Linked DNA regions of Homo sapiens: region 1 is linked to region 2. Evidence: fine-mapped expression QTL. A gene starts in region 2. The other region holds a variant in brackets. All regions are shown on one strand. Distances are between the middles of the regions.

Region 1 (2,920 bases), 41 kb after region 2:
AATGACAACAGCAAAGCAAGAATGTGGTAGGGTCACATAAAGGAGTCGTGATCTGTGGGAAATTATTTTTTATGATTCTCCAAGATGGCTGTACATATAAGCATAAAAGTCAATAAACAAGTGCCTAACCTTTAGCTCTAAATTAACTTTTGAGCGCTTTGAATGCCTGGCACAAAAATATTTAGGGGTTTGGCGCCATCTGGTGGCCAAATATCAACTTTTCAGCTTCTCTTTTATGACTAAGAAGTGAATTACTCTGCACTTTCCAATAAACACTATTAATAAATAAAATTATTTAAAATGTTGATTTCCAGAACTTGAGAAGACAAATCAAAGACAGATTTCTGTTATGTTACCTATTGTTATATGACAGAATTTCAGTCTTGAGTAGGTTCTTTTATACTTGCATTTGATTTATTTATGAAAGCATTATAGACATAAATCTGCTATCTTTTTCTTAATACAAGAGAAGACTCTTTCCCCAAAAGAAATTAGACGTGCTCAATAAAATCTAAATTTATTTTTTCACAATTCTGTAAAAGATTGAGCTAGGGGTGCGTGTGTGTGTGTGAATATCAGAATTTATTTTAAAAATGCAAGAGGGAGAGGGGAAGGAGCTGGTAGTGACATTGTTAATTGTCTGCTTTGCAATAGCAAAGACTTGGAACCAACCCAAATGTCCATCAATGATAGACTGGATTAAGAAAATATGGCACATATACACCATGGAATACTATACAGCCATAAAAAAGGATGAGTTCATGTCTTTTGTAGGGACATGGATGAAGCCGGAAACCATCATTCTGAGAAAACTATCGCAAGGACAGAAAACCAAACACTACATGCTCTCACTCATAGGTGGGAATTGAACAATGAGAACACTTGGACACAGGGTGGGGAACATCACACACCGGGGCCTGTCGTGGGGTGGGGGAAGGTGGGAGGGATAGCATTAGGAGATACACCTAATGTAAATGATGAGTTAATGGGTGCAGCACACCAACATGTGCTGTTGTACACGTGTACACATGTATACATATGTAACAAACCTGCACGTTGTACACATGTACCCTAGAACTTAAAGTATAATAATAATAAAAAAAAATTGTCTGCTTTGTACCCAGGGCTGTTCTAGATGCTTTCAGTGGATGGCCTCAATGAATTTCCGCAACCATCTTTCCAATGGGAAGTGTTGTCCCAGCTTTACT[G/T]CTGGACAAGTGTCTAAGAGGTTAAGGACATAAATGCTCAAGTTTTGTGAGAAAGCCGTTTATTTTAACAGAATGATTGCAATTGCTCATATTAAGCTATGACAGAAAAACTGGATTAACACTTTTTTTAGTCTTTTTCTTTTCAGCTTTTCAAGATAAAAGTTTCCTGTGTCTCCTGATTAAAGTGCTTCTGTGATTGTTGCTCTGCATTAAGTTGTATACTTCCTCGTTCTTTCCTTAGAGCTTCTTTTCACAATCCAGGAAGCAACTCGGTGGGGCACAGCATGGGGTAAACAAAATGCCAAGGGAGGGAAGAGTTCATATTGGTGGAATTTTTTAGTTACCTCTCTAGAAACTAGTGGAAACTTCTTTGCTTCTCTTCTTTTTACTGACAATTTAAAAAAATAAATTATTTTATTTTAGATTCTGGGGTACATGTGTCTGTTATATGCGCATGTTTTGTAGTGGTGGGGATTGGGCTTCTAGCGTACCCATTATCCAAATAGTGAGCATTGTACCTGATAGGTAACTTTTTCAATCCTTGCTCCCGTCCTACCCTCCTTCCTTTTGGAGTCCCCAGTGTCTATTCTTTCCATCTTTATGTCCATGTGTACCCATTGTTTAGCTCTCACTTATAAGTCAGAACATGTGGTATTTGGTTTTCTGTTTTCTGAGATCATTCTCTTAGGATAATGGCCTCCAGATCCATCCATGTTGCTGCAAAGGACAAGATTTCATTCTTTATGGCTGCTTTTAAGTCATTTTTTTTTCTTTTGTAGTGACTCACTTTTATCATTGTTAATTAGATTAAGTGGGTCTTTGGTTTAATTCTATTTTTAGGGTAATGTAAACCACAAGATTGCTTGTGTTCTGTGCTACTACACTTTTGTTCACTGCTGTATCTTCAGTGTCCAAGAGAAGCATTATACATATAGGTAGCAGGCACTCAATGGGTTTTAACAGAAAGACACATACACATACACACACACACACACACACACACACACACACACACACACACACACAGAAAGATAAAGAGAGAGCACGCACAAGTCAGTAACGGAAGGAAGCAAAGGAAAGGAGGGAGAAAGGCAGAAGGGGAGAGGAGCTGCTTGGTAAAGGTGCAGTAGGAAGTTTCACCTACAGCACTGGGTATTGTGGAAGTCAAGTGGAGGAAAGTTAACATCTACTGGAGGCTGTTGTGTGCCATTCACTGTTAAGCACTTTATAACTGTAATTTCATTAATCCTAAAACCAACCAAGCGAGCTGGTTATTATTGTTTCCCTTTTCACAGATGAGAAAATTGAGCTCACTGTTGTTAAGTGATTTACAGAAGGTCATACAGCTTACAAGTGGCACAGTCAAGATTTAAATTTTGTCTCTCTTTCTTATGACTTACATTTTAAATGAGTTGTTCATTTATTCATTCAGCAAATATTCATTGAACAATGTAGCACTCTTCCCTGATAATCTCAGAACCTGCAATCCTGTAGGCTAAAGATTCCCCTAAAGTATTCCTATAGGCTAAGTAATCTCCCAAAGTATTTCTTCAGTCAAAACCTCTCCTCTGAACTCCAGATGCATATACCTACATGCCTTTTTGACATTCCCACTAGGGCTTTTGTACATACCTCAAGCTAATATATACCAGTAAAATTTTAGATTATAGACCCAAACTTGTCTTTTCCTCAGTCTCCATTTTCTCTGCAAA
Region 2 (2,920 bases):
CTGCCTTATCTGTAAAATGGGGATAATGAATACTCACACCCCACAGGCTTTTTATTTTTTCTAATGGAAAATGACCCAAACTGCAAAGCATCTGTTTATAAAATAGTATATATACTCAAAAGGCTCGGGTCTCACATCATGGTAAGACAATGCTATCCTTTGTCTCCAACGGTTTGCTTAAATTTATCACATTAAGACTATAATGTATCAAAGAAAAACTGTTCATGCAACCCTCTTAAAATATGTCAGTTTATAGGGAATAATAATACCAGATGTGAATAGAATAGATACTCCAAAACCACTAGAAAACCTTGTCAAATAGACGGAGTAAAAAAAAAAAAAAAAAAAGCCACACATTGATTTTAATGTCAGATTTATAACTAAAAATAATTATTTATTGAACTAAAAATAATTATTTATTGATCTAAAATGATCACAACACTCAGTTGGTCCTAGCAACGACTAAAACTTGCATAAACTATACCTTAGATAATTACAAAGAACCGCATTTAGGTGGTGTCGGCTTATAAGGAAACAATATTTTCCAACATCCTTGAAAAAAATGAAGTCTAACTATTAATAGTTTCCAGTTTCTATAAAAAAGGGATGACCTTTCATTTTACAACCAATTTTTTTGGTGAAATTATTTTTTTTCAAGTGGCATGAAAATAAATATAATCGAAAATATGGGAGGGGGTTCTAGATCATTAAAGTGCCTATTTAGCGTTTTAAATAATTACAGAAATATCTTTTAAAGTTTTCTTGGTGTAGAAACCTTTACGATTAGCCCCCAGAGTAGAAAAAACTGGCACATTATTTAACTTTCCTTCAGCAAAGTATTGGATATACACAAAAAACGTGATGCCTCCCTGATATTAAACGAGAAAAAGGGGGAAAAAAGCATGTATACGTCGATACTTTCATTTAAAAATCATGGTGATTCGCTTATGTCTCCATACAATTTTCCTCGTCCCCTGTGCAAATTCCCCTGAACGGATTTCAGAACCAAAAACTAGCTGATGAGCTGGGGGCCATTTAAATTCGCTCCCCTCGAAGGCGCCCGAAGTTCGCCTTCCTTTCCCTTTCTTCCCTCTTCGCTCCCTTTTTGTGCCAGCTCAGCAGTCTCATTGAAGCGAGCGGCGGCGGCCGCGCCGTGGTAAACAAGTGCCGGGCTGTCAATCAAGAACTAGACCGGAGCAGGAGAGGACCGGCCTAAACCGGCGCGAGCAGATCCCAGCCGGCCTGCCCGCGCGCCGCCGCCGCCGCCGCTGCCGCCCGCGCGCCCCGCTATACATACGGCATACGTCGCGCGGCGCTCGCGCCCGTGCCCGCGCAACCTAGCCTGCTGGCCGGGGGGCGGGGCGAGCGAGCCGCGGCGCTTCCGCTTTACACGCCCCAGCCGGCGACCGGTTCCATCTGGCTCGGGCCACTCTGACACCTTTAGTTTCGGCAAGGGATATTGGGGTGGCGAAGGGGAGGCGGGGGCCCGAAGGCTTCGGAAAACGATGGGGGAGGGGGCAGAGGATACCCGTCGAAGCCCCCCCCTCCCCCAACATTTCGATATTGGAATCACTTTCCTTCTTCCTCGGGCCAGCCTTTGCTCTGTCCCCTCAGGTCAACTCAAGGTAGACAGTGTGGCGACTGGAGAGGTCGGGGAACAAGCTTTGTTTCAGCTAAGGGGAAAACAAGCGTTCACAGGAGTCCCCTGACACCTCCCACTCGGAAGATAGCTAACGGGGGTCCTGCCAACCCTTCCCATCCAACTTCCATCTGAAAAGGATTTTCTGCTAAAGTTGGGTCCATGGCCATCCAGCACCTGTAAGGCCGGCAGGAGCGTCTGCCCTCTACTCAGTTAAAGCCTGAAGTCGTTTCCTTTCGATGGCCCTTAGGAGGCCCAAAAGAGGGGCGACAGAACATGATGTTGACACGGGCTGGGCGCCCCCAGAAGCCCGGGAACAAACGTGAGTACGGGCTGGGTGGGGGTCGCTCTGGAGGAACCTTTACCGGCGCACGCCGGTTTCCTAGCCTCGCCCCAGCCGCGGCGCGAGCTCACTCTCCCCACCCGCCCGCGCCCAATCCAATCAGCGCCTGCCATCGCCTTAGCAACAGGCTAACAAACCTGGCTCCGCCTATCCCGGGCGCCCGGGGCGGGGTCTCAGTTACCAGGCTAGTTTGAGAGCTCCCAGTTTCAAGTCATTGAAACTATTCCAGACTGAGCTCGTCTACGCGTTGCAGGGTTTGGGGGGCATTTTGTTGGGGGTGCAGGGCATTTAGTTTTCTTTACCACGAAATCATGGTGCAACTAATGAAATTATATTTGTCCTCACATCTCGTTGTTCTACTTTTCCCCACTGCAAGTCTTAACCCCTTGAGGAAAAATCTGTTTTCTTTCATCCGTTTCATAAAAGGCTGCAATATTCAGAAAGGTACAAACACAAAGTCATCTATCTGCTTTTCAACAAATACCAAGGCTGTCATTAGGCATTTGCATCTCCTATCAGTGTTAACACTTGGAGAGATTAATTAGTTATTTCAGGATGCAAAGTACCTGTATCTAACTACGAAAATCCTGCTAAAGAACTGAGTTCACCTTAATAGTTTCAAAAATAATGCATTAATACTGTCCCTCAAAGCATCCTTCATTTCTCACTTGCCTTAGTCATCAGCACTTCTCCAGGATGTACGTTTTTAATATAAAAAATAAGGTAAAATATGTCTCTAATTTTTTTTCTGAAAAATCGCCAACATCTGAACTAAATACTGCATTAAAAAGGAGAGGCACAAAAATTACATAACCAGTTTTAACATTATATTCTTCTTGGGCTAGGAATTAAGTCATCGCCACCACCTGACGCGTGTAACCAATCTGCTGAGAGCAGAACAAGCGCCCCTCCTCACCACCCCCCAGAACTGGTCCGAA

The links.
Region 1: its variant is fine-mapped to the expression of ARRDC3-AS1 in whole blood (TOPMed, PIP 0.95).

Annotation. Positions count from the first base shown.
Region 1 is chr5:91,419,597-91,422,516 of GRCh38, forward strand. It overlaps ARRDC3-AS1 (ARRDC3 antisense RNA 1), which reads left to right. Exons shown (of 3, transcript NR_027435.1): 3 at 1-1,119. Among named protein-coding and RNA genes, the nearest start is that of ARRDC3, 38 kb to the left of the region's middle. The variant G/T (reference allele first, on the strand shown) is at 1,209.
Region 2 is chr5:91,378,964-91,381,883 of GRCh38, forward strand. ARRDC3-AS1 (ARRDC3 antisense RNA 1) reads left to right here and starts at 1,384. Exons shown (of 3, transcript NR_027435.1): 1 at 1,384-1,961. All of the region lies in intron 1 of ARRDC3 (arrestin domain containing 3), which reads right to left. RefSeq lists silencers at 1,246-1,425, 2,046-2,115.